Linked DNA regions of Homo sapiens. The protein of the gene in region 4 interacts with the protein of the main gene of each other region in a biochemical or structural test. Each region holds a gene or a part of one and is shown on either strand. Other genes may lie near its edges. The genes, in order: TEP1, TERT, F3 and PTPA.

Region 1 (8,010 bases), on a different chromosome or scaffold from region 4:
TGGCTCACTGCAACCTCCGCCTCCCAGGTTCAATCCATTCTCCTGCCTCAGCCTCCCGAGTAGCTGGAATTACAGGCGCCCGCCACTATGCCCAGCTGATTTTTTTTTCTTTTTTTTTTTTTGTATTTTTAGTAAGAGACAGGGTTCCACTATGCTGGCCAGGCTGGTCTCGAACTCCTGACCTTGTGATCCACCCACCTTGGCCTCCCAAAGTGCTGGGATTACAGGTGTGAGCCACTGTGCCTGGCGGACTCCTTTTTTTTTAAGCATGTTTGCTTATTAGCCCACTTGCTAATTGTTTCTCCTTTGTGGTTTTTTTTTTTTTTTTTTTTTTTTTGCTTTTTGTTTTTTGAAACGGAGTCTCACTCTATTGCTGGCTGGAGTGCAGTCGCACAGTCTCAGCTCACTGCAACCTCGACTTCCCGGGTTCAAGTAATTCTCCTGCCTCAGCCCCCCAAGTAGCTGGGATTACAAGTGCCTGCCACCACACCCAGCTAATTTTTGTATTTGTAGTAGAGACAGGGTTTCACCATGTTCATCAGGATGGTCTCAATCTCCCGACCTCATGATCCACCCACCTCAGCCTCCCAAAGTGCTAGGATTACAGGCGTGAGCCACCGCACCCAGCCTAATTGTTTCTCTTTACTGAAATACAACTCCTTAAGGTAAGGGCTCCTTTGTCTTGCTCCCCTCTGCATCTTCAGCATCATACACAAAACCCGACTTCCGGTCACCTCCCAGCATCATCTCTCACTAACACCCCGATCTAACCCTCAGCACTCTAAGCTTCAATCATACAAATTTTATTTAGCTTATTAATTGCCAAGGTATCTCTTGACTACGGGCCTGTGCACAGGCAGATCCCTGGAACACTCTTTCTTCTACCAATACCACCCCTCCTTTACAAGGCCAAATGCTACTTTCCTCTCACTCTACAGACTTCAGTTTCATCAACTCCTCCAAAAAGCCTGTGCTGACACCAAGCCCCAGTCTGATTTAGGTGGCCTTCTCCTTGTTTTCACAACACCCATATGTCCCCTATCATAGAGCACATCACCTGTTTGTCTTTCTTCCCAATAGACCATTAAGTTCCTGAGGAGAGAGACCCTTTTAGCCTTGTTCCCACAATTGCTGGTCAGCGGGATTCAGAGGCTTTTGAGAATCTGGTAAAAGCTATGGAGCTTTTTCACAGAAAAAAAAAAAGTATATACTGTTTTGTGCTCAATTTTCAGAGTGTCTATGAAGCCCATTTATGGACCTCCCAGGATCTCCATAAACTGAAAATTAGAAACCTCTGCCTAACAGAATGCTTGAATTATACCATCAGGAACCTATTTTCTGGCTGGGTGTGGTGGCTCACACCTGTAATCCTAGCATTTTGGGAGGCTGAGGTGGGAGAATCACTTGAGGTCAGGAGTTCAAGACCAGCCTGGGCAACATAGTGAGACCTCTATTTAAAAAAAAAAAGGAATGTATTTTCTTACTTATTTGGACAAAGGCTAATCTCTCATTCATATGTAAATATTTTGGGAATAATATTGTTAAGTCAACCACCTAAACTTAGTGTGAAAAAGCTTAGGGACAAAAGTACAGAACACTTCCAAGAAGACCTGAATGACTAACAATCCAGGGCCAAAAAGGACAACAATATCTCACTGGACGTCAGTGTGACAAACACGTAAAAAATGATGGCTTCTGTGCCCAATACACTTTGCTCATGTCGTTGCCCTATATAAGCCCCCAAGGAAAGGAGTGGGGAAACTCAGAATTGACTCAGATTTTTTTTAAAAGAGATCTCAAGCCAAAAATAAACAGAAAAATAAGGACAGTTTATTTGAGCAACATAGTGAGACTGTCCTATCCTTAAAAGGACAGTCTCACTATTTTGCTCATTTTATTGTTTTGCACCCTGGAGTTTTTGAAAGGAGATTCGGCTGAACCACAAATGGAAAGTTAAAGTTCCGTCCCCACTTCCATCTCTAGTTCCCTTCTCTGGAAGTAAACATTGCTCACAGTTTTATACTAACAGTTTCACAGTTTCTATGCATATGCAAATACATGCCTTCACCATCACCACTGCTTTTGCTTTTGCTTTACACAAACAGGATCATAAGTTAGATGCTATTCTGCACTTAGTATATCTCAGAGACCTTGCCCTGTTAACACATTAATACCCACCTCACTCTTTCCTTTTTTTTTTTTTTTTTTTTTTGAGGCGGAGTCTGGCTCTGTTGTTCAGCTCACTGCAATCTCTGCCTGCCGAGTTCAAGCGATTCTCCTGCCTTAGCCTTCCGAGTAACTGGGATTACAGGCGCCCACCACCATGCCCGGCTAATTTTTTTGTATTTTCAGTAGAGAGGGTTTTCACCATGTTGGTCAGGCTGGTCTCAAACTCCTGACCTCAGGTGATCCCCAACCTCCGCCTCCCAAAGTGCTGGGATTACAGGCGTGAACCACCGCGCCCGGCCTCCACCTCACTCTTCAAGTGGCTGTATGGTAGTCTAGCACATTTAAGCACAGTCTGGGTTTCTATTATCACAAACGGTTCTCATACTACCATTTGTTGGTGACAGCCACTGTCCCCTTTCGATGGGCACACAGGGCAAGGAAGTAAGAGGGGATGATTCTTACGTGGTCTCTCTTCCTGTCCCTCCCTCTCCTTCAGCCTTCTCCTCCTCCTTTCTCACCTCCCCTTTCACGCAGTATACACTCCCTCCCCTTCCCGGAGCCGCCGGGAGGAGCAGGGTGGATGCACCCCTAGCTGAGTCTCGGGTGGTTCCTAACCGGCCCCGCCAGGCACTTCCCACCCAGCTCTCAGCCTCAGAGCCCAGCGCCCTAGACCCAGGGCCAGGGCAAGTTCTGCCTGCGCTCGGACCCTACCTTAGACTGGGGCTGGAAACCCTGGGTGCCTGACCTGGGGCGTCCGATTCCCGCAGCAGGAAGCAGAAACTTCGCTCTGGATTCTGCCGGTGGGAAGGGTGGCAGCCGGGGGAGGAGCCGGATGCGGATCTGAGAAGAGACGGTGCGGGCGGAGACTCTCGGGCCCGGGCGGGGCGCAGCAGCTGCTGGAAGGGCAGCGAGCCGAGGGCCGGGCAAGACGACATGCCAGGGCTGCGACGCGAATGCCCAGGACCCCTGCCGCCTTTTCTGGGGCCCGAGTTTAGTTTGTTATTGTTTCTATTTTTTTTCCCTTTCTGGTCCTATTTTCTCCTGTCCCTAGGGCTTCCCCCTCTACCAAATTCGTCTCCTCTGGCTAATTTTCGTCTTTTTTTCTCCCATTAACTCTTCAAACACCGTTTCCTGGAAAAGATTTTAGCATGCTCGCTGCCTAGCTGTACACCTCTCCTTCCTAATATCAAAGACGGTCAGACTCAATTCATCCTAAAGTTCCTTTGAGGAACTCCTTAAAAGGAGACGGAAAGCGGAAAGCAACCGCCTGTAACCAAGTGTAGACATCAGTCAATCAAAGTTCGCTGAACTGAGAGCAAGTGCCTCCCCTCCTGTTGATCAGAAGAGAGATCCGTGGATCACACAGAATCTATCTGGAGCCATCCTGAATGATTAATGCTGAACCCTTTCCAGGAAGATGGAACCAGGCTTAGGAAAGAGACAAGTGACCCTTAGGTTAATAATCCTAGCTTCATAAAGAGAGGACCAAACATAGTAGCAGGAGAAATATGCTTTCTGCCTTTATATAAAGCAGATTAGCTGTCTTCTGGAAAATATCATTGCTTTCCTTAGAGAGGTACCCTTGAGTCTCAGGTAACAGCTGAGCTTCCGCTCAGAATTGAGGGCATTCTGTCCTCTATTAACTGAGCCAGTACCCCTTTCCTTCCTTAGAAACCTCTATTGCCACCAGTCCCAACACTCCCTGCAATGGTCTTTATGTTTGTGTCTCCCCAAAATTTATATATTGAAACCCTAATCCCAATGCGATGGTATTTAGGGTGGGATCTCTGGGAGGTCATTAGGTCATGGAGTTTAGAATACTCATAAATGGGATTGGTGGCCTCATAAGGAGAGACGGAAGAGCTAGCTAGCTCTTTTTCCACGATATGAGGATACAAGAAAACAGCCATCTGCAATCCCAAGGAAGACCCTCATCTTCAGAGGCAGACCATGCTGGCAATCTGATCTTGGACTTCCATTCTCTAGAACTGTGAGAAATAATATTTGTTGTTTAAGCCACCCGGTCTACGGTAATTTGTTATAGCAACCTGAACTAAAACATTTCCTTTTTATAACAAATATTTTAAAGCTCTTTTTATTTTTCTGAAACATAATTCGTAAAGAATGTAACTTACCCCCACGCACAATTTTAAACCAAAATTTAAAGACAAAAAGTAGAGACAGGGTTTTGCTATGTTGCCCAGGCTCTCTACCTCCAGGGCTCAAATAGTCCTCCTACCTTGGCCTCCCAAAGTGCTTGGATTACAGGCATAAGCCACCATGCCTGGCCAAAAAATTAGTAAAATCTCTTAAAGAGATATAAAGGAGTCTACGGCCATACCACCCCGAACGCGCCCGATCTCCTCTGATCTTGGAAGCTGAGCAGGGTTGGGCTTGGTTAGTACTTGGATGGGAGATAAAAGGAATACTAGAAAGAATATGACTTATAATTAAATACTATATGTTTAGATATGTAAATGTTTGTGTATAACATTCAAGAAGACACAATGTGGTACTCAGATATATGCATCTGTATATAAAATCACCTGGAATGTAACAGCTACAAATGCAGAATGATACAGGCATTATAATGGCGATTCAAATACCATGAACAGAATTACTGATGTGGTATGATTTTCCAGAATACTAAATAGCTTTTGGCAGATTTTCAAACAAAACAAGGTATGATCATCCCATGATTTTCATGGTAGTTGCATCCCTGGAAAGTTCAGTGTGTATTAAAACTACGCATAAAATGCCTTGTGTTTATATTTAAAATTAAATTATGGTCAGGCACGGTGGCTCACGCCTGTAATCCCAGCACTTTGGGAGGCCAAGGTGGGCAGATTACCTGAGGTCAGGAGTTTGAGACCAGCCTGGCCAACATGGTGAAACCTTGTCTCCACCAAAAATACAAAAATTAGCCGGGCATGGTGGTGGCCGCCTGTAATCCCAGCTACTTGGGAGACTGAGGCAGGAGAATGGCTTGAACCCAGGAGGTGGAGGTTGCAGGGAGCCGAGACCACACCACTGCACTCCAGCCTGGGTGACAAGAGCAAAACTCCGACTCAAAAAAAAAATAAAAAAATTAAGTTAGATCCTAATTAAAACAAGTTTTCAGCTACATGAATGACTGGCAAGTTATTCAAAGTTAAAGATGCGGAAATGTCACTCATTGTGTGGTAGTGTCCTAAACAGTTCCTGAATGTTGAGCTATCCTGGGCCCTACCCATTTAAATGTGTAAAATCATCCTAATTATTGTGAAAGCCAAAAACACCCCCTAGAGGGCAGTACCACTCACATCGAAAACCTTCATTAGTGGTCTGTTTAGAGGAGAAAGAGAGGAGTTTGGTGAGGGAACACAAGAGCTAGGAAACCTGAAAGAAAGGGTTACGTGAGGTGACTACAGTGGGAGCATATTGAGGAGAAGGAAGTGAGGGGAGGGATTGAAGGAGTCCACACAGGGCCTTTCTTCTGAAGGCCAGCTTTATAAGGCCTCTTCCCCATAGAATATGCCTTAGATAATAATCCCAACCTCAAGACCTCGTAGTCTGTGACTCTCTGTGGGAAACACCTGCCCCACCAGTGAAAGAACAGCATATGCAAGCCCTTCCATCATATTCCCATAAATATCAGACCTGAGAAGACTGGCAATACAGGAGGGAAGGCAATTGGTGATGGCTTCCTGATTGGCTTTGAGGATCTAGTTTTACTTTCTGGTTTCCTGAAGCAGCAAAGAGATTCAAGGCCAGCAAGGCTTGTACACTGGAACTACCTGGAGATCTTTTAAAAATTCCAAAGTCCAGGCCACACCCCAGACCAATTAAATCGCAATCACCCAGAGTAGGACCCAGGCATCAGTAGTTTTTGAAGTTTCCTAGGTGCTATGGTCTGAATATGTCCCCCAAAATTCATGTTGAAACTCAATCTGCGATGTGATAATATTAAGGGTTGGGGTCTTTAGGAGGGATTAAGTCGTGAGAGCAGAGCCCTTATGAATGGAGTTTGCAGCCTTATAAAAGGGCTAGAAGAAACCAGCAATCACTCCTTTGTTTGCCCTTCCACCTTCTGCCATGAGAAGATGCAGCAAGAAGGTATGTTCTCACCAGACACCAAATGCTAGTGCCTTGATCTTGGACTTCCCCAGCCTCCAGAATTATGAGAAATAAATTTCTATTATCTATAAAATTACCCAGTCTCAGGTATTTTGGTATAGCAGCACCAGTGGATGGAGACATCAGGTGATACTAATGTGCAGAAAAGTTTAGGAACCTCTGCTCGAGGGTCTCACTAATCAAAGTATGGGATTGTGGACCACAACATCAACATCACCTTGTTAGAAATGCAGACTCTCAGGCTCTACCCCAGATCTACTGAATCAGAATCTTTTAACAATATTTTCAGGTTATTCCCACTCACATTAAAGTTTGAGAAACACTGATCCAGACAAGTGGGGTGGAACCTGAGAATCTATATTTCCAAACACTGTGGTCAGGGCCCAGTGATTTGTATTTTAACAAGCTGTCCGGTTGGTTTTGGTACATGCTTAAATTTAAGAACCCCTGATTAGGCAGGGTGTGGTGGCTCATGCCTATAATCCCAGCACTTTGGGAGGCTAAGCGGGCAGATCACTTGAGCTCAGGAGTTTGAGACCAGCCTGGGCAACATGGTGAAACCCTGTCTCTATAAAAGATGCCAAAAAAAAAAAAAAAAATTAGCTAGGCATGGTGGCCCACACCTGTAGTCCTTGCTACTTCTGGAGCTGAGGCAGGAGGATTGCTTAAGTCCAGGAAGTCGAGGCGGCAGTGAGCTGTGTTCGTGCCCTGGCAACCTGGGTGACAAAGCAAGACCCTGTCTCAAAAAAAAAAAAAAGCTCTGATTAAAACGAAGATTGTTGCTCATCTCTTTTGAAAATTTCTGATTCAGTAGGTAGGTCTGAGATGGAACCTGAGAATTTGCACTTCCAGCAATTTCTCAGGTAATCATGACTCTTATCTCTGATCTGAGGTAAACATTTAAAAAACTATTAATCTAGGATGATTACCTAAACAGAAGCGATAGTTACTACCTACCACATGGCAGAGGTAGGTAGTAAATAATGCACCTGTCACACTTGAATTGCATATATAAATTAAAAATTTGGCCCAATTCCCAGATGTTCTGTTCCAATCACACAGCCACTGAATGATCCCTAAAGGACATTTCAGCTGTGTTTTGAGGAGCCAGATAAACTATCTCTGCCTTGCAACAGAGAAAACCTTTCAACTGGCAAGATGTTCACAATGTTCAAATTCAGCTTTTCATACCCGTAGGAAGTGCTAATCATATTGCCAATATTTGCTTCTTTGAGTCATGCTTTCCTAAGTTAGCCATTCCCTTGAGTTGAACCAATCTTTCTTCAGATGACTATCATTAGAATAAATCAGGAGTTTTGCCAATCAAATAACTATACCAGGGCTGGGAAGATGTGCCATTTCCCACTGGAATGAAATCACTTAACTCTCACAGAACCATCTTACATTCCTTATTTGCAAGTTCTTAAAGGACCATTCACTTTCTCCTGCATATAGGCCAACACCACCTTACTGTTGATTAGTAGCATTGAGCTGCGATGGCCAACTGATGGGTGTAATATCCAGATTTGTCTCTGGGACAAAGGAGTGCCACCCCCTCAGTCTTCCCTTTTGGGAAGGGTCCTACCACCTGTTAAAATTGCTCACTTGTGGTCAGTTTTCTTGCATGTTCATTGTCCTCCTCTACTTTGATCAACAAACATCTGCTAATCCCCTGTCAAAGAATAGTGCTAGTACATGGGTAAAATGTATACAACATGCCTTCTT
Region 2 (7,022 bases), on a different chromosome or scaffold from region 4:
GTCCTGGGGGTGCCAGGGGTCCAGGAAGGTACCACCAGCATCCCTACTCTCCTCTCAAACCTGGCTTACAGTCTCCAAGGCCCAGCCCTGTGACAGGACAGGGGCACCCATGCTAGAAGTGAGGACCCTGAATGTGGAGCTCCCCAAACCAGCACCCGAGAGCGTGAGGACAATGGTGCGGACCATGCCTGGAGGAGGAAGGAGTAAGGCCAAGGGGCCACACACACCCATGCCATAGACACGCATATGTCACGGACACATGCACACACACACACCACAAATAGGCACATCACAGACATGCAGCACACAGCATGAACATGCACGTGTCACAGACACACACACATGCACACCACAGGCACACACACCATGGACACACACGTGCCACACACACACACACCACAAATATGCACGCCACAGATACATGCACCACGACACACACGTGCCACACACGCATATCACAGATGTGTAAATCATGGAAGTACCTCCACCACAGAAACGCATCACAGACACGACTGCATTCTAGACACATTCATATCCCAGAGACACACATCCTGGACACGACTATCACACGTGAACCTTACGTGGCTCTTGAAGGCCTTGCGGACGTGCCCATGGGCGGCCTTCTGGACCACGGCATACCGACGCACGCAGTACGTGTTCTGGGGTTTGATGATGCTGGCGATGACCTCCGTGAGCCTGTCCTGGGGGATGGTGTCGTACGCGCCCGTCACATCCACCTGTGTGAGTGGAGGCGAGGAGACTGACAGTGGCCACGCAGAAACTCAGACATCACCTCTGCCCTCAGGGCCTGGCCTGGCGGTGTCCCCCACTCTCTCTCTGACCCCCACCACTCCAGACCCCAAGGGCAGGGCGGGCTGTGTCCCCTCTCTGAGCCTCAGGACAGGAGACCCCTGGCTCAGGACTGGGGTGCAAGGCACCGGGGCCTGGTGGCTGAGCCGTTGCGGTTCCTTCTCTGACGGAAACTGGAATCCAGTGGGACCCTCCTTGGGAATAGGAGCCCGGGCAGTCAGGGTGCACAGTCGGCCCCATGTGCTGCAGGAAAGGCTGAAGGCCTCCACCCTAGGTGCCAGGTGTGTCCTCAACAGTGACAGGGTCACCTGCACTCCCTGCGGCCCACCCAGGAGTACCTCCTCCACCCAACATGAGGTGCCAATCAGGCAGCCACTCCCAAGGTCCAGCAGGGCTGCTCACGGGGGTCCCCGGCACCCACCTTGACAAAGTACAGCTCAGGCGGCGGGTCCTGGGCCCGCACACGCAGCACGAAGGTGCGCCAGGCCCTGTGGATATCGTCCAGGCCCAGCACAGAGGCGCCCAGGAGGCCGGGGCGCCGCGCCCGCTCGTAGTTGAGCACGCTGAACAGTGCCTTCACCCTCGAGGTGAGACGCTCGGCCTGGCGGGGACAGCATGGGAGACAGTCAGGAAAGTGGATCCGGCCAAGTGCCCACCCCACCATAGGGACCCAGGGGAGAAGCAGCCCCTCCCCAGTGTCCCCAGCCACCCAGACCCGGGACCTAGAACCCCTCCCAGCTTCCTCAGACCCTGTTTGAAACGGGTTCCTGGCCGCATGTGTGTTGCACACGGGATCCTCATGCCACACCTCTGTCCACCTCACCCCACACTCTCCTCAGATGACGGGGTCACCGCAGCCACCGCAGCCACAGGGGTGGGGTGCAGGAGCCGTGGGGCAAGGTCCAGGATCCTCAGAGCCCGGTGGGCTCCTGGCAGTCGTGGCCTGGTCCCCGGGCCCCGTAAGCGGAAGCGCACGGAGGCTGCGCACCACAGCAGGACACGGATCCAGGACCTCGGGCCGTGCTGCATCCAGGCCCTGGCCCGGCTGCTTCTTGTGGTCCTCAGAGCCTGTCCCTGCCCCAGGAGCTCCCCCTACACCCCCACGCTGCTTTTCTGGAGGCACCGGCACCTCGGCCACCTCACTGTGCGCACAAATGGGTTGGCGCCGTGCCATGGCCCTGGCTGTGTCCCGTGGCCCCTCCTCCGGGCCCTTCATCTAAGCTGATACCAAATGTGGGGCTCAAACGCACTTCTGTTTAAAAAGGAAGTTAAACCAAAGCACAGCCACCCTCTTTTCTCTGCGGAACGTTCTGGCTCCCACGACGTAGTCCATGTTCACAATCGGCCGCAGCCCGTCAGGCTTGGGGATGAAGCGGAGTCTGGACGTCAGCAGGGCGGGCCTGGCTTCCCGATGCTGCCTGACCTCTGCTTCCGACAGCTCCCGCAGCTGCACCCTCTTCAAGTGCTGTCTGCAATAGAGAGCCCCTCAGGAGGCTTGCTCAGCCAGACAACAGACTAGGGGGAAGCTCACGGGAAGCCACAAGCCCCCACCGACTCAGTGAGGGCTCAGGGCACCCACGGCAGCACACGCTGAAGGCCATGCCCGGGGCCACGTCCACCCATGCCAGCCAGACGCCTCTGAGAGCCCCTCTACTTGCAGGGCACCTGGACACCTGGTCCTATAGTCAACCCTGGGGACGCCCAGTCCGGCGGTCAACCCCCAGGGTGACTGTCCCACCATCAGCACCAGGGAGCCTGGTCCCAGGCTGCATCTGGGGCCACGTGAACCCATGCCCCTCCACACAGGATGCCTGTCCCTCTGGTACAGCCACTGGGGTAGCCCAAGGCTGGCCCCAGGCAGGACCCCCAGGTAGAAAGAGCCACATCCCTTCAGATGGAGAGGGCGGGAGAGGCTGCTCAGGGCAGCTCAGCCAAGGAGCAGAATCAGCTCTCATGAGCCCACCAGTCTCCTGACACCTCTGCCCTTTGGCCTTTTCCCCCAAAACCACCCATGGGGGCACGGGGGCTGGAGCGGCCACACCTGGACCTGGGCATCTGTGGCTGACAGCCTGGCACTCCGTGGACACTGGGGCCGCGGGTGCTCCGGAGCTGGTGCCCTGACCGCAGGCCGCAGGCCCAGCAGAGTAGAAAAGGCACGGTACCCTGTCCAGGGAGGAGGGGCCTCCAAGGCCCCCCAGGCAGAACAACAGTCCCAGTAGTGACAAGGAGCATCTTGGGGACCACCACGTCTGTCTGCTCCTTCCGGTCACCCCAATTAAATTCTTTCCAAAATACTGGTCAAATGACCATGTTGGGTCGCACACCATTAAATACGTGTAAAGTCTAAGTAAGGTGCATTGTGTATTAACTTGTTCCCACAGGGAAAGCCCTGACCCTCCCCCAGATGCAAGGAAATGGCCCCAGCACCACGTCGGGGTCCCCAGCCCAGAGGCTGTGTTACCTCTGACGAGGTCTGCTGCCAGCTCCCTCTGCAGACATCCTGATTTGGGGCATGGGGTGTCACAAGGCCCCCCAGGGACTCGAGTGTGCAGGGGAGCTGGGGAAGCCCTGATCTTCTGACTAAAGCCCTCCACAGTCAGCCTGGGCGGGACACGGAGAAGCTAATACCATGGCCTGGGCTCAGCCAGGCTGGCATCTCCCAGACCAGCGCTCCCGTCCCTCACTGATGCAAATCCAGCTTGAATCTGTCACAATCTCACACTCTCATCAGCCGAACATTGCAGACAAAATCTCACAGCCATTCAAATGCAGCCACCTAGAAGTTAGCTCATGGTGGAACTCTCCTATCCCCAGGTGCTCCCTGCACAGGTGCTCCCTGCAGTGAGTCGCCAAGTGGGTGGGATTTTATCCTCTCATGACCTAAATCCAATAGATTGAAGATTCATACAGAACAGCATGAATTAAAAGAGAATCGGGGGCTGGGCACGGTGGCTTAGCCTGTAAACCCAGCACTTTGGGAGGCCAAGGTGGGTGGATCACCTGAGGTCATGAGTTCGAGACCAGCCTGGCCAACATGGTGAAACCCCGTCTCTCCTAAAAGTACAAAAATTAGCCAGGCGTGGTGGCAGGTGCCTGTAATCCCAGCTACTTAGGAGGCTGAGGCTGGTGAATCGCTTAAACCCAGGAGGTGGAGGTTGCAGTGAGCCAAGATTATGCCACTGCACTCCAGCCTGGGCAACAGAGTGAGACTCCATCTCAAAAAAGAAAAAAAAAAGAGAGAGAGAATCAGACCCACATCCCAGGGAAAGGCAAGGAGGCTAGTGGTAGTGTTTCCATCTAATTTAAATCCCTTCTGCTTTACAAACCCTAGAGACCACTTGGCACAAACTCCTGATTTTACAAGTAAGAGAACGTGAGCTCCAGGCAGTCAGAGCCTTGCACAGAATCCACTTGGACCAGGCCTGTGACGGGGCCCCTGGCTCCCAGCCCAGAGCTGCACAGCCAGGGAAGCACAGGCAAGTGGAGACAGGCGCATGCTGAGGCCGGGCTGGTGTTCCAGGACTTCGAGAAGCAGAGGCCTGGCGTGGGGATACAGTACCTGATTCCAATGCTTTGCAACTTGCTCCAGACACTCTTCCGGTAGAAAAAGAGCCTGTTCTTTTGAAACGTGGTCTCCGTGACATAAAAGAAAGACCTGAGCAGCTCGACGACGTACACACTCATCAGCCAGTGCAGGAACTTGGCCAGGATCTCCTCACGCAGACGGTGCTCTGCGGCCGGAACACAGCCAACCCCTTAAACGAGAAGGACATGCCACATCCAGATCACCGAGGGCCTGGTGACCTCACCCCGGACCTGCACCATCCGGACACCGCACATCCAGCTCACCAAGGGCCTGGCGACCTCACCCCAGACCTGCACCATCCGGACACGGCACATCCAGCCCACCAAGGGCCTGGCGACCTCACCCTGGACCTGCACCATTCGGACACGGGGACACCGCATATCCAGCTCACCGAGGGCCTGGCGAACTCACCCCGGACCTGCAGCATCCAGACACCACACATCCAGCTCACCGCAGGGCCTGGCGAACTCACCCCGGACCTGCACCATCCAGACAACACACATACAGCCCACCGCAGGGCCTGGCGACCTCACTCCGGACCTGCACCATCCGTACACTGCACATCCAGCTCACCGCAGGGCCTGGCGACCTCACGCCAGACCTGCACCATCCGGATACAGCACATCCAGCTCACCGCAGGGCCTGGCGACCTCACCCCGGACCTGCACCATCCGGATACAGCACATCCAGCTCACAGCAGGGCCTGGCGACCTCACCCCAGACCTGCACCATCCGGACACCACACATCCAGCTAACCGCAGGGCCTGGTGACCTCACCCCGGACCTGCACCATCCGACACCGCATATCCAGCTAACCGCAGGGCCTGGCGACCTCACGCCAGACCTGCACCATCCGGATACAGCACATCCAGCTCACTGCAGGGCCTGGCGACCTCACCCCGGACCTGCACCATCTGGATACAGCACATCCAGCTCACAGCAGGGCCTGGCGACCTCACCCCGGACCTGCACCATCCAGACACCGCACATCCAGCTAACCGCAGGGCCTGGTGACCTCACCCCGGACCTGCACCATCCGGACACCGCATATCCAGCTAACCGCAGGGCCTGGCGACCTCACCCCGGACCTGCACCATCCGGACACCCCACATCCAGCTCACCGAAGGCCTTGGCTACCTCACCCCGGACCTGCACCATCCAGACACCGCACATCCAGCTCACAGCAGGGCCTGGCGACCTCACGCCGGACCTGCACCATCCGGACACCACACATCCAGCCCACCAAGGGCCTGGCGACCTCACCCCAGACATGCACCATGCAGACACCGCACATCCAGCTCACCAAAGGCCTGGCGACCTCACCCCAGACCTGCACCATCCGGACACGGCACATCCAGCCCACCAAGGGCCTAGCGACCTCACCCTGGACCTGCACCATCCGGACACGGGGACACCGCACATCCAGCTCACCGAGGGCCTGGCGAACTCACCCCGGACCTGCAGCAACCGGACACTGCACAACCAGCTCACCGCAGGGCCTGGTGACCTCACCCCAGACCTGCACCATCCGGATACAGCACATCCAGCTCACAGCAGGGCCTGGCGACCTCACCCCGGACCTGCACCATCCGGATACAGCACATCCAGCTCACAGCAGGGCCTGGCAACCTCACCCCGGACCTGCATCATCCGGACTCCATACCTCCAGCTCACCGAGGGCCTGGCGACCACACCCCAGACCTGCACCATCCAGACGCCGCACATCCAGCTCACAGCAGGGCCTGGCGACCTCACCCCGGACCTGCATCATCCGGACTCCATACCTCCAGCTCACCGAGGGCCTGGCGACCACACCCCAGACCTGCACCATCCAGACGCCGCACATCCAGCTCACAGCAGGGCCTGGCGACCTCACCCCGGACCTGCATCATCCGGACTCCATACCTCCAGCTCACCGAGGGCCTGGAGACCTCACCCCTGACCTGCACCATCCGGACACCGCATATCCAGCTCACAGCAGGGTCTGGCGACCTCACCCCGGACCGGCACCATCCGGACTCCATACATCCAGCTCACCGAGGGCCTGGCGACCTCACTCCAGACCTGCACCATCCAGACACCGCACATCCAGCTCACCGCAGGGTCTGGCGACCTCACCCCGGACCTGCACCATCTGGACACTGCACATCCAGCTCACCGAGGGCCTGGCGACCTCACTCCAGACCTGCACCATCCAGACACCACACATCCAGCTCACAGCAGGGCCTGGCGACCTCACCCCAGACCTGCACCATCCAGACACCACACATCCAGCTCACAGCAGGGCCTGGTGACCTCACACCGGACCTGCAGCATCCGGACACCCCACATCCAACTCACAGCAGGGCCTGGCAACCTCACCCCAGACCTGCACCATCCGGACACCGCATATCCAGCTCACCGCACGGTCTGGCACCGTCTGGCGACCTCACTCCAGACCTGCACCATCCAGACACCGCACACCCAGCTCACCGCAGGGCCTGGTGACCTCACCCCAGACCTGCACCATCCAGACACCACACATCCAGCTCACAGCAGGGCCTGGCGACCTCACCCCGGACCTGCATCATCCGGACTCCATACCTCCAGCTCACCGAGGGCCTGGAGACCTCACCCCTGACCTGCA
Region 3 (6,877 bases), on a different chromosome or scaffold from region 4:
TAAGCTTTACGTTTATAAAAATAGATGTCTGCTGAAAATACCAATCCCAGTCTAAGACTTGAATTGGAAGGTTTTTCTCTAAAGTTACATTTTTCAGAATACTGGTGCTATGTGATAACTCATTTAGCAAAGCTTCTTGTAAGCTGTTCTAGACAGTTGATAGAAGTATTTTGAATGACCAGGATAATAGATTTTATCATACTGACTTTCAACTGTTTAATTTTGGTCTAAATGAACTGTTGGACTAGTATATTGCTATTTTCACAAAATGCATAATCATGACTGCCAATTTTTCCATGACTAACTATACCCAGCCAGATGTTTCTTAGGTTCTGCTGAGTCACTTTTTTCCTTTTCCTCCAGAACTCTGTGTTCCTACTAACTCCTAATTCCCTCTGGCCTTTTCTCATACTTTGCCTTTTACCTGAATTTTGGGTAATGGTTTCATTGCTCTTTTTACCATTTCATATGCATAAAATAAGTTTCTCTGAATTATTCTCAATTTTACTTGCTATCATGTATCTTAACCTATCTCTTTCCTGGGAAATAAACATTTTGAGGAATTTGTTTTAAAAAGTTATTCAGCCTCTGTATGCAAGGAAAACTATCAACAACCTCATCGCATGATGAAGTATATTCTGAATCATCGTAGAATCCAGTCTTTTAAAAAAATGCTAGCTAGTTTCCAAACTTCTGTATCTGGTTTCTGCTTCTCAGCTATCTCTCCTCCTGGTGAGATTTTCTGGTGGTGCAGAGATAGCTAATCACTGGTTAGACTGCTAGAACTTGCGGTCGAGTGGTGCCTTTCCAGTCATGATGGATTTGTATTTTCTTACCAATCTCAGCATCATGAAACACTCACTGCCTGGCCCCTAGAAAGAGTTTTCAGTGACAGATTTCATCTCTTGAACACCAGTGAAATATTTGGTTGCACTCATAGTTTTATAAAGTATTCATTGACTCAAAAGGTATTAAGTGCCTATTATGTGCTGATAATTGTGGAAAGGGTTGAGAGAGGAAAAAAACAGACAAAAAACCCAATCCAACAGGAAAGATTAACAGGTAAACACACAAGTGAGATTAAGTGAAGTTCTCAATGAAAATGAGTCGGTAAAATTGGCAGCAAGTACTATAAAAGTACAGTGGAAGGGCTGAAACATCTCCGCAGTTATTTTCAGACTTCTCATCAACCACATTTCATCACTGGTTATGCAAAGGGAATTCAAACTCTTCTACGTGTCTCCTTGTCTGTCTATTTCAAGGACTAACCATCAGGATATTTCTGCCTAAGAACAATGAGTTCCCCAAACTGCAAAGTATTTTCTATACTTTGTGTGCAGTTTTTGTGCAGTTTTGCACTTTTCTGCACTTTGTGTACATGCAGAACATTTTTGAGTGCTTATGGATGGATTAATTAATCATTCATTTGATGGATTTACCACCCAGTCTTACTTTCCTTCATTGGGAGTAGGAGAAAGCCTGGTGATGGAAGGAAAGCCCCCGGGGTCAGAAGACCAGATCTGCACTGTGTGGTTAGGCAAGCCAGTTTACTCAGATCAGCTGGCCACAGGGTTCTCATCCATAAAAGAATGTCTGTGAGGTTCTCCCATCCTCTGACATCCTAAAATCCAATGAGAAAGGGACTGGTCAAGCCAGAGAGATTATTGTTATAGTTTAGTAACTTTTTGAACTTCTCAGAGCCTCCAAGATAGATCATGGAGGAGGGAACTGTTAACTGCTAAGCTTGACTTTACTGACAGGAGTAAAAAAAATTGTGTTAAGGTTAGGGAATAATTTTAACAGTCAATTTGTTCTTGTGAACAAATTTCAACAGTGAAATTTTAGATATGTACTTTTTAATGGTGCCAAGCAGCAGTTATTATAGATCAACTGCTGTTTGGCACCATTAAAAAGTACACTTCGCACCGTCAAAAAGTAGATCTGGCCACAATTAGATCAGTCAGGGAAAAACACTTCGCAATGAAATATTATTTACCACGTTTTCTTCCTCCCTCTTCTTGAAAATAGTAATGATTTTAGCATTTTTAAATCTTGAAGAATGTCATTCCGTACTGACTAAAAAGCCTGTGCAAACACCCAACATCTTCTCTTTCCTGTCTATTTTAATGGATATACAAAATAAATATTCATCTAATTTATCAATATTTAAGGCACATTGTGTATCACAATCCAATGGTAAACATTTTTCTTATCAAATGGCTGATCTTGACATTGTTTAAAGCCCTATATGATTTCAGAAAAGTCAGTGACTCCAAGTGGAATTGCAACAATTTCTTGGGTCTTGTAACAAACCTGAAGTGTAACTATTTCTCTTCAGCTACCTTCAATCCCAGAGAGCAAAGAATCACATCCCAGGTGGAGCTGAAGATCTCTTAGGGAAAATGACTCAGGCTAGAGCCTGCATAAAAAGAGGATTGCATGGCTTAGTTTTGCAAACATAAATTTTGTGGGTTTCAGAGCTGGCAGAGAGCTCAAAGAGGAAATCATCAAGGGCAACTTTCTGCTTCGAGGAAGGAAAGTCTACAAGGGCTAAACCTGGATGTGCTATTTCAGTTCAGGCAAAGGAGGAAAATTAAAATTTTGCACAGTTTTATTCTGTTAAAACAAGTGGTTCAGTAAGCTAAACGAGATATGTATATAGTATGCATTAAAATGCAAGACTGACTTCCCTGGGAAAACGTGGGAAAGAAGGAGAGAGGAAACAAACAATTCTTACACTAAGAATTCTCCAGTCGTGTCTTGCAGGCAATATAGAGTAATAATAATAAAAATGACAGGAGATACTTTGACAGGATGGCTTAAAATGCCACTCAATAGATGAAGAGTTGTTCTCATGCTTGGCAAGTTTACAGCAAAGCCCAGAAGGAGAAGCCAGAAAATAATTTAGAAAAACCAAAGCTTAAAACTAGTGGCACACAACTCTGGTTACATTTTTCATTTTCATTTTTGGTTCCTCTGCATTTCGGTGGAACTCAGTCCCACAGATGTCTTCTTCAATGTGGGAACCATCCTTTCTGGAACCACAGAGCTGCAGATGTCACGCTGGAATTCTCCCAGAGGCAAACTGCCAGATGTGAGGCTGCTCTTCCTCAGTCACTATCTCTGGTCGTACCGGGCGATGCCTGAGCCAACTGACCCTCAGACCTGTGAGCCGAGCCGGTCACACCGTGGCTGACACCGGCATTCCCACCGCCTTTCTCCTGTGCGACCCGCTAAGGGCCCCGCGAGGTGGGCAGGCCAGGTATTCTTGACCTTCGTGGGGTAGAAGAAGCCACCGTGGCTGGGAGAGGGCCCTGCTCACAGCCACACGTTTACTTCGCTGCAGGTCCCGAGCTTCTGCCCCAGGTGGGCAAAGCATCCGGGAAATGCCCTCCGCTGCCCGAGGGGAGCCCAGAGCCCGTGCTTTCTATTAAATGTTGTAAATGCCGCCTCTCCCACTTTATCACCAAATGGAAGGGAAGAATTCTTCCAAGGCGCCCTCCCTTTCCTGCCATAGACCTGCAACCCACCTAAGCTGCACGTCGGAGTCGCGGGCCTGGGTGAATCCGGGGGCCTTGGGGGACCCGGGCAACTAGACCCGCCTGCGTCCTCCAGGGCAGCTCCGCGCTCGGTGGCGCGGTTGAATCACTGGGGTGAGTCATCCCTTGCAGGGTCCCGGAGTTTCCTACCGGGAGGAGGCGGGGCAGGGGTGTGGACTCGCCGGGGGCCGCCCACCGCGACGGCAAGTGACCCGGGCCGGGGGCGGGGAGTCGGGAGGAGCGGCGGGGGCGGGCGCCGGGGGCGGGCAGAGGCGCGGGAGAGCGCGCCGCCGGCCCTTTATAGCGCGCGGGGCACCGGCTCCCCAAGACTGCGAGCTCCCCGCACCCCCTCGCACTCCCTCTGGCCGGCCCAGGGCGCCTTCAGCCCAACCTCCCCAGCCCCACGGGCGCCACGGAACCCGCTCGATCTCGCCGCCAACTGGTAGACATGGAGACCCCTGCCTGGCCCCGGGTCCCGCGCCCCGAGACCGCCGTCGCTCGGACGCTCCTGCTCGGCTGGGTCTTCGCCCAGGTGGCCGGCGCTTCAGGTGAGTGGCACCAGCCCCTGGAAGCCCGGGGCGCGCCACACGCAGGAGGGAGGCGACAGTCCTGGCTGGCAGCGGGCTCGCCCTGGTTCCCCGGGGCGCCCATGTTGTCCCCCGCGCCTACGGGACTCGGCTGCGCTCACCCAGCCCGGCTTGAATGAACCGAGTCCGTCGGGCGCCGGCGGGAGTTGCAGGGAGGGAGTTGGCGCCCCAGACCCCGCTGCCCCTTCCGCTGGAGAGTTTTGCTCGGGGTGTCCGAGTAATTGGACTGTTGTTGCATAAGCGGACTTTTAGCTCCCGCTTTAACTCTGGGGAAAGGGCTTCCCAGTGAGTTGCGACCTTCAATATGATAGGACTTGTGCCTGCGTCTGCACGTGTTGGCGTGCAGAGGTTTGGATATTATCTTTCATTATATGTGCATCTTCCCTTAATAAAGAGCGTCCCTGGTCTTTTCCTGGCCATCTTTGTTCTAGGTTTGGGTAGAGGCAATCCAAAAGGGCTGGATTGCTGCTTAGATTGGAGCAGGTACAACGTTGTGCATGCCCCGTATTTCTACGAGGTGTTCGGGACGGCGTAGAGACTGGGACCTGCTGCGTACTGGCAAAGCAGACCTTCATAAGAAATAATCCTGATCCAATACAGCCGACGGTGTGACAGGCCACACGTCCCCGTGGGTCTCTGTGGAAGTTTCAGTGTAGCGACATTTCAGATAAAAGTGGAAAAAGTGAAGTTTGGCTTTTTTCATTTGTATGCAGTCCTAACTCTTGTCACACGTGTGGGATTTATCTTTTTCCATAACTTACTGAAAACCCTTCCTGGCGGGCTGAACCTGACTCTTCCTGAGCTGAGTCCTGGACTGGCACACTGATGGCTCTGGGCTCTTCCCGGTCAAGTTATAACAAGGCTTTGCCCATGAATAATTTCAAACGAAAATGTCAAGATCCTTGCCGGTGTCCTGGGATTACAAGGTGAATCTTGTCATGAAGAAATTCTAGGTCTAGAAAAAATTTGAAGATTCTTTTTCTCTTGATAATTCACTAATGAAGCTTTTGTGGTTGAAAAATAAAAAGTGAGGTTTATGGTGATGTCAGGTGGGAAGGTGTTTTATACATCAATACATTCGAGTGCTCTGAAGTGCATGTAATAATAGCTGTTTCTCTGTTGTTTAAAGGCACTACAAATACTGTGGCAGCATATAATTTAACTTGGAAATCAACTAATTTCAAGACAATTTTGGAGTGGGAACCCAAACCCGTCAATCAAGTCTACACTGTTCAAATAAGGTAAGCTGGGTACAGAAAAAGAAAATTAAGGTCTTTGATGTTTCTACTGTCCTATGCTGAACAAGAATGTCTTTAAAGCTGATTACTGGATGAAATTATTTAACAGATGACGAAGAAGAAGGGATTCTTGGCAATTCGCTGGCCGGTGTCATACTCTATTAGGCCTGCAACATTTCCAGACCTTAAACTGATAGAACATTTTAATTGTTTTAATTGTTTTTGGAAATGATGGGAGAGTTCCTAAGTGGAGTATAAACTGTGGAGAGATGAACCATCTTGAGTAGGCACTGAAGTGTGCTTTGGGTCATGATAGATTAATTAATCTCATCTAAACATTGATGTCTTTTTCTGTTGCTGTCTAGACTGTGAACAATGTCTAACACCTTAGGGAAGAGGTGGGGAGGAATCCCAATGTATACATTGCCCTTAAGCAGTGTTTGATTCATTCATCTTTGGACTCCATGAATCGAAATCTGGTAGAATACATGATCTTAGTGGAGGAGGCCAAATGCGTGACTCACTGAGCCTGGCAGAGCAGAAATACTCTGCTGTCTGCACCCTCTGGGTCTGGTGTGGCTCTGCTTCTTGGTGCCTCAACTCTGACTGGCAGCTGTCCCCAGGAGGCGATAATTCAGCATGTTCAATCTAAAGGTTATGACTTCCTTGATGGTTTTCACCATATTCTTGGCAAGTTTTTGGTTTTTGAAATGTTCTAGGAGGCTTGGTAGAGATCTTATGAAATAGAGAATAGCTGCTGTGGAAATTATTTTAATGCTAATTACATAAAAGTACAAAAGTAGCACTAGCTAAAACAAAAGGTATTTTGCTGTTCTGTTTTGTTTTAGCTTGTGCCAGGCCTTTTACAGCATTAGGAATGCAACTTCTAGATAACGATGCATCTTTTAAGTGAATGTTCTTGTTTTTCAAAATGAACTTCATGACAGTAGTTGCCAAACCAGCAAGGAGAACTTGCATGCATACGTGCATGCATGTGTGGATATGTATGGGGGTGGGGGGAGAGAAAGATGAAGGAATTTCATAACATGAAATAATGATTACAGTTCTGGTCAAACTTGTCAATTCAGATTTCACCAATTGAGAATTAGTAAGTAATTTCTCTGATACAGGCCTGAAGTTTACCTTAGTAAACACTTTACTTCCATATGGTAAAAATTAGATTTTGGGAGGAATGCTTACCTCCTAAATATATTCAATCTAATATTTGAGGGACACATGGGAATATATTTATGATTCATCTGCTTTTTAAACATAAGCCTTTGTTAACTGTAAGTTCTTGAACTTTATAAGGCTGCTGTTATTTAAATGAGCACAGCTCCTGATCTGCAAACAGCAGAGCGCAGGGCTACAGCTTGGGGGATGCCAGCCGACTCAGGGTGGTCCTATGGACTGAACAATCTCTTGCTGCTGTACTGGAGGGCCTGGGAGCTTTTCCATCAGCCTCGGCCTGAGGTGTGCACTCTTCTCCTGCCCACCCCAGGAATAAATGAGA
Region 4 (7,022 bases):
TGGCAGACATTATGTGACAATTCTTTTTTTTTTTAAGACAGAGTCTCACTCTGTCACCCAGGCTGGAGTACAGTGGCACGATCTCAGCTCACTGCAACCTCCGCCTCCTGGGTTCAAGCAATTCTTCTGCCTCAGCCTCCTGAGTAGCTGGAATTACAGGCGAGTGCCACCACGCCCAGCTAATTCTTGTATTTTTAGTAGAGACGGGGTTTCATCATGTTGGCCAGGCTGGTGTCGAACACCTGACCTCGTGATCCGCCTGCCTGGGCCTCCCAAAGTCCTGGGATTACAGGCGTGAGCCACCGCGCCCGGCCTATGTGACAATTCTTTCACTTGCTTTTACTTGGAGGTTAATTTGAACCTGTTGGAAAAAAGGCTTGGACACTCCATCCACAGCCAGAGCTTGATTAGGACAGGACAAGAGAACCATGAGCTACTCAGGAGAACCCTAGAGCACCCCATTTCCCAGTTTGAGGAGGAAACAGATGGCCCCTCACGCCCCCTCCTCCAACCCTCCTGTCCTTTCTCTCACCGATTGAACACCTTGAAGACAATAGCTATTTGGTCATCCACCCGGAGCACCCCAATCTTGCAGAGACAGCAGAGGAAAGCAGCGAAGGCTGCCTCATGCCCTGGAGGAGAAAAACAACCAGCGTTGACAGTAGTCCAGGTAAAGGACTGGGATTGTTTTAGTCTCCCAGAATCCGAATCATTGATAAGTGCCCCTCTGAGGAGGGTGGTCAACATGGAGACAATGAGACCTCTTCCCCATTCAGAAAGACTTGCTAGGCCCTTTCCTTTCAAGAACTATAATACCAGTACTGGCCGTGCATGGTGGCTCATGCCTGTAATCCCAGCACTTCAGGAGGCTGAGGCAGGCAGCTTGCTTGAGCTCAGGAGTTTGAGATCAGCCTGGCCAACATGGCAAAACCCTGTCTCTACAAAAAATACAAAAATTAGCCAGACATGGTGGCATGTGCCTGTGGTCCCAACTACTCAGGAGGCTGAGATGGAGGATCTCCTGAGCCCAGGAGGTTGAGGCTGCAGTGAGCCATGATAAGGCCACTGCACTCCAGCCTGGGTGACAAAGTGAGACTGTCTCAAAAAAAAAAAAAAAAAAAAAAAAAAAAGAACTACCAGTACTATAATTCCACTCGTAAAAGACCCGGGCTGGACATTTACATTTCATTACGTAGGTTTAACTCACTCAGCAATTCCACCATATTTACTGAGCACCTACTATGTAAGCAGTCACTGTCCATGTTACGCACTAGGAGACAGTGACAAGTAAGTCCTTGCCCTCAGAAAGTTTATGATCTATCAGGGACAACAGACATTATAAATATACAGTCACTACTATGATTCCAGCTCTGAAGGAGAAAGACAGGGTACTAACTGGAGGATATCACAGAAGGACCCTGACGTAAGGGTTCAAGGTTTCCCCTAAGGAAGTAACATCTAATCTGAAATCTGAAAGATGTGAGCTGGCAAGGCAAAGGGAGTGAGGGAAGCAAGAAATGCATTCTAGCCAGAAGGAATAGCATGTGCACAGGCCTTGAGGCAAGAAAAAGTTTGATCTGTTTGAGGAACACTAAGGAGGCCAGTATGTCGAAGGCAGTGAGAGCAAGGGAGAACGTGTAATGACAGGAGGCTACAGGTCACATGGGCCTTTTGGCCATAGGAAAGAGCTCAGACTTTACCCTAAGAGCAATAGGGAGCCACTGCAGGCTTCTAAGCAGGGAACACATGATCAGATTACAGGGTGAAAAAGTATCCTCCTTCCTTTCCCAGTCATATCAAACAGGAATGGTCTGCACTGTAGGAACAACTCACTGGACTGTGATTGAATCCCATTGTTCACAATGTCACACAAAACCTATCTGGAGGGAGGTGAGAAGAGAATGTGTCAGAGAATACTTCTGTCCTGTCTCTGGAGGACGAAGACCCCTCCAGGGCCTGGAAGCTTGTGAGCTCAGTTTCCTTCCCCTGCCACAGTTTCCAATTATGACCAGACAGGGCCCAGGCTCCCATTGTTCAGGGGTTCACATGCAGCTGGGGCACCAACCCCTGCTGACCTGGCCAGTCTTCCCTCTTTGATCTTTTCCTGCTGGTCTTAGTCAAAGCCCCACCCGGTCCAAGAGGGCCCTTCTCCAGGGCCTGCCTCTGTGGCTGGGGCTCCCTCCTGTGGATCACATTCCCCAGACAAGGGGAGGGCTGAGCGGTGCCCCATCTGCCTGCCTCAGGGAAGGAAGGCGGGCCCTCACCAAAGCAGAGGTCCTCCTTAGCTGCACAGGCCAGGCCCTGACCTAGAGAACGCCTCCCTTCTCTATTTTTGAGAGATGGGGTCTCAGCATGGTGGCTCGACAGGCCGTGCCCTGACACAGAGAATGCCTCCCTTCTATATTTTTGAGAGATGGGGTCTCAGCATGGTGGCTCCACAGGCCATGCCCTGACCTAGAGAACACCTCCCTTTTATATTTTTGAGAGATGGGGTCTCAGCATGGTGGCTTGCACCTGTAATCTGAGCACTTTGGGAGGCTGAGGTGGGAGAACAGCTTGAGCTCAGGAGTTCAAGACCAGCCCAGGCAACATGGCAAAACCCCATCTCTACAAAAAATACAAAACAATCAGCTGGGCGCAGTGGCTCACGCCTGTAATCCCAGTCCCAGCACTTTGGGAGGCCAAGGTGGGTGGAGAAGTGACCTCACCAGAGGTCAGGAGTTCGAGACCAGCCTGGCCAACATGGTGAAACCCTGTCTCTACCAAAAACACTAAAATTAGCCAGGTATGGTGGTGTGTGCCTATAGTCCCAGCAGAATAATCGCTTGAACCCAGGAGGTGGAGGTTGCAGTGAGCCAAGATCATGCCACTGCACTCCAGCCTGGGCAACAGAGTGAGACTCTGTCTCAAATAAATAAATAAATTGCCAGGCTGGTGGTGCACACCTGTAGTCCCAGGTACTGGGGAGTGGGGAGATGCAGAGGTGAGAGGATCACTTGGGCCCGGGAGGTCAAGGCTGCAGTGGGCCAAGATCACATCACTGCACTGCAGCCCGGGTGACAAAGCAAGACCCTGTCTCAAAAAAATAAATATATAAATAAAAATAACTTAAAATAAATTTTTAAAAAAGAGATGGAGTCTTGCTACGTTGCCTAGGCTGGTCTTAAACTCCTGAGCTCAGGCAATCCTCCCCCTCAGCCTCCAAAAGTGCTAGGATTACAGGCACGCACCACTGCACCTGTCTACACTTCCCTTTTAAAGTGTCCACACACTCCCTCTCCTCAAAGTCCAGGTCCCTTGGCTTACATGGACCACAGATCCAAACAGCCCAATAGCACAGAGAATGTGGCTAAGAGACAAGGGGTTCAAGGGAGAGGGTGTGCCACGACACTGCAAAGGCCACCAAGAAGCGTTCCCATTTCTCAAAGCTTCAGTAAGCTGCTGCCTTGACACACAGTAAGTGCTCAATTAATAATTATTTTGGTGATGATGAGGAGCTCAGAGACCATTTTCACAAGAACAGAAAGCAGCGCTGCGCAAGCACCATGCACGGGGCATCAGCTCCCCCTGGTGGACCACAGCAGAGCTGCAGCATCCGGGCCTCCCTGCATGCCTACGCCCTCCCTGCCGGTGAAGCCACCCTAACCCCAGCTGGCCCCAATAGGTTGCAGGTGCTTGGCGAATTCTTGATTGCTCTCACTTGCTCAGAGGGCCCAGAGACCACCTGAAGCCCAAAACAGAAAGCAGTGAAGCTAGATAAGTACAGAGCCCCACAAGCAGCAGATACCTGTGCCGTAGTCAATGCGCGTGGAGTTCCCCACTGACTCCTTTAGGTAAACAGCCACCTCAGGCACAGCAGCTGCCAGATGGGTAGGGACCACTGTGGCCACCAAGTTTTCTGCTTCCTGGTAACACAAGAGACACAAAGTGGTGGCAGCATATTAAGCAGCATCCCAGTGGGCAGGTGCCCAGGGGCAGCACCTGACTGGGGGCCCACACTGCCTTGCCAGGCCAGCTTGGTTCCTGTTCTGACAGGCCACAGAAGGAAGGGGAGGGACAGCATTTATTCTTCCACAGCAGAAGACTACCCAGGCGACTTATCATCAACTGATTTTTCCAGGGCACAGGAGTCTAGGGGCAAAACAGGAGGAATCTGGAAAAAAGCCTCAACCCTCCCATGTGGTAACTCACTGGAGCCCCACAGAGACTCTGGAAGGTCAGTGCTATGATTCCCACACAGGCCACCTTCCTTCACACTCTCAGGTCAGCAAGAGCTGGTGTCATGTGCCATCAAAAGACGTGCAGAAGAATGTTCACAACAGCACTGTTTAGAGTAGCCAAAAGGTGGAAATGCAATGGAAATGTCCATCAACAGTGAAATGAATAAATTGTGGTATATTCATACAATAGAATACTACACAGCAAAGAAAAAGACCTATAGCTAGACATGAAAACATGGATGAATCTCAGACATGACATTGAGCAAAAGAAGCCAGAGAGTTATACGAAGTTCAGAAACATGGAAAAAAATCAATTTATGGAATAGAAATCAGAATAATCTGGGCGATATCAATTGGGAAGGGGAGCACTCCAGCTAGAATGTTCTATTGCTTGACATGAGTGGTGAATCCATGGGTAAAAAACTTGGCATGAGTGGTGAGTCCATGAGTAAAAACATGTAAAAATCCATCAAGCTGTAAAGCTATGATTTGTCAGCTTTAAGATATAACTTAAGGCTGGGAGCAGTGGCTCACACCTGTAATTCCAACACTTTAGGAGGCCAAGGTGGGCGGATCACCTGAGGCCAGGATTTCGAGATCAGCCTGGCCAACATGATGAAACCCCGTCTCTACTAAAAACACAAAAATTAGCCAAGCATGGTGGCGCATGCTGTAGTCCCAGCAACTTGGGAGGCTGAGGCAGGACGATTGCTTGAGCCCAGGAGGTCAAGGCTGCAGGGAGCTGAGATCATGCCACTGCACTCCAGCCTGAACAACAGGAAAAAAAAAAAAAAAAGATCATGTACCATCTTAAGAGTCCAGAGGCAGGCCCGGGCGTCTCTTGGGAACAGCACTTCACTGGGTCCTGAGTCCTCCCCTCTGCTCTATGTGAAAATATTGGGCCAGAGCAATTAGGACCCAAATTTCCTTAAGCTCAGTTGTAGACAACTGGCATGAGCCATCTCCTGGAAAGCTAGTAAAAATCCAGGTTCCCAGTCCCTACCCAGACCTGTAGACTCTGCTTTTCTAGACAGGGTCTGAGATCCTGCATTTTTATTTTTGTTTGCTTTGAATAGGTAACACCTTCGTAAGATTCAAAAATAAAAACATCAGTAGAGGATCAGTTCAATAGACTAGTCCATCCACACCATGGAGTATGCAGCTAGCATTCCAAGTGGGTGTGCAATGGCTCCATCATAGCTCACTGCAGCCTCAAACTCCAGAGCTCAAGTCATTCTCCTGCTTCAGCCACCCAAGCAGCTGGGACCAAAGGTGTGCACCACCATTTCTTATTTTTTGCAGTAACGGGGTCTTGCTATGTTGCCCAACCTACTCACAAACTCCTGGGCTCAAGTGATCCTCCCGCCTTAACCTCCCCGAATTCTGAGATTACATGTATGAGCCACCGTGCCCAGCTATGAAAAAAATTCCTTTTTGGGGCCGAGCGTGGTGGCTCACACCTGTAATCCCAGCACTTTGGGAGGCCGAGATGGGCGGATCACAAGGTCAGGAGATCAAGACCATCCTGGCTAACACGGTGAAACCCCGTCTCTACGAAAAATACAAAAAATTAGCCGGGCGTGGTGGTGGGTGCCTGTAGTCCCAGCTACTCGGAAGGCTGAGGCAGGAGAATGGCGTGAACCCAGGAGGTGGAGCTTGCAGTGAGCCAAGACTGCGCCACTGCACTCCAGCCTGGGCAACACAGCGAGACTCCGTCTAAAAAAAAAAAAAGATAAAATAAAAAATAAAAAAAATTCCTTTTTATAGCTGCACAGTACTCCATGATATTGATGGACTAATTTATTTAAATAATCCCCTACAGATGGATACTTGGAACATTTCCAGTTTGCTGTAATACAGTGACTTAATAAACAGCCTTGTAGTGCAGAGGGCCGTATGTGCACAGTCGTGTTTCCCAGAAGATGACCAAGCAGAGTATAAACTCATTTGTAATTTTGCTAAGTGAAATTGACATTTTAACAAACTGAGATTTGTATATGCCTAGAAGCGCTATACAATGCAGGCCCTTCCCCAACTGGTGCCAGAACCACCCTCACTGCCAGCCCAGTCCCTGGCCTGTCCTGTGGCAGCCTCACCTCATCAAGTTTGGCATACCAGGTCCTGTATGCCTTATTCCCAAACCGAGAGGGCTGGTCCACTGGAGGAGTCTCATCAATCCACCTGTCCAGCGTGTTGAGAAGAGCGACTAGTTTCTCAATGGCCTGTGGAGGCAAAATAGAGGGGTCCAAGCTACAGAGCAAGTGGCTCCCGCTTAGCCACAGAGGGAAGTCCACTGCTGCCAGACAATGACCCCTTGGCATGGCCCCTACTGGGAACTCTCCCCCATCCCTCTTTCTTCCCCACTGTTCTGAATATGAAGGAGGGTCAGGAGAGCATGATAGGCTTTCCAGAGAGGGAAGCACACTAGGCTGATGGGACAGGGACGGGGTGGCTTTAGCACCTGGTTTCTGTAGGCAGCCTACCCATGGGCTGCTGCTATAGAGAAGCTAACTCCAGCCCTGACATCTTTTTAAAAAGACTTTATGGAAGCCTTTTGTTCAGTATGCAATACCTACTCATCATAAAAAATAGAAATATAAACAGAAGAAAATGAAAATGACCAGTAATCCTGCCACCCAGAAATACACTAAACTTTTTTTTTTTTTTTTTGAGACAGAGTTTCGCTCTTGTTGCCCAGGCTGGAGTGCAGTGGTGCAATCTCGGCTCACTGCAACCTTTGCCTCCCAGGTTCAAGCGATTCTCCTGCCTCAGCCTCCCAAGTAGCTGGGACTAAAGGCGCAC

What was found.
Region 1: of the proteins of PTPA (region 4) and TEP1, one has a biochemical effect on the other in vitro, tested with the Homo sapiens proteins (one study listed by BioGRID).
Region 2: of the proteins of PTPA (region 4) and TERT, one has a biochemical effect on the other in vitro, tested with the Homo sapiens proteins (one study listed by BioGRID).
Region 3: of the proteins of PTPA (region 4) and F3, one has a biochemical effect on the other in vitro, tested with the Homo sapiens proteins (one study listed by BioGRID).

Annotation. Positions count from the first base shown.
Region 1 is NC_000014.9:20,410,491-20,418,500, forward strand, and holds the start of TEP1 (telomerase protein component 1), read right to left. Parts: upstream 3,012-8,010; 5' UTR 2,915-3,011; exon of another isoform or gene 2,881-2,914; intron 1-2,880. UniProt on the Homo sapiens protein: Component of the telomerase ribonucleoprotein complex that is essential for the replication of chromosome termini. Also a component of the ribonucleoprotein vaults particle, a multi-subunit structure involved in nucleo-cytoplasmic transport.
Region 2 is NC_000005.10:1,278,060-1,285,081, forward strand, and holds part of TERT (telomerase reverse transcriptase), read right to left. Parts: intron 4,566-7,022; coding exon 4,370-4,565; intron 2,280-4,369; coding exon 2,099-2,279; intron 1,412-2,098; coding exon 1,232-1,411; intron 738-1,231; coding exon 582-737; intron 1-581. UniProt on the Homo sapiens protein: Telomerase is a ribonucleoprotein enzyme essential for the replication of chromosome termini in most eukaryotes. Active in progenitor and cancer cells. Inactive, or very low activity, in normal somatic cells.
Region 3 is NC_000001.11:94,538,747-94,545,623, reverse strand, and holds the start of F3 (tissue factor isoform 1 precursor), read left to right. Parts: upstream 1-3,864; 5' UTR 3,865-3,987; coding exon 3,988-4,087; intron 4,088-5,255; coding exon 5,256-5,367; intron 5,368-6,877. UniProt on the Homo sapiens protein: Initiates blood coagulation by forming a complex with circulating factor VII or VIIa. The [TF:VIIa] complex activates factors IX or X by specific limited proteolysis.
Region 4 is NC_000009.12:129,128,405-129,135,426, reverse strand, and holds part of PTPA (serine/threonine-protein phosphatase 2A activator), read right to left. Parts: intron 6,443-7,022; coding exon 6,317-6,442; intron 3,906-6,316; coding exon 3,788-3,905; intron 633-3,787; coding exon 533-632; intron 1-532. UniProt on the Homo sapiens protein: PPIases accelerate the folding of proteins. It catalyzes the cis-trans isomerization of proline imidic peptide bonds in oligopeptides. Acts as a regulatory subunit for serine/threonine-protein phosphatase 2A (PP2A).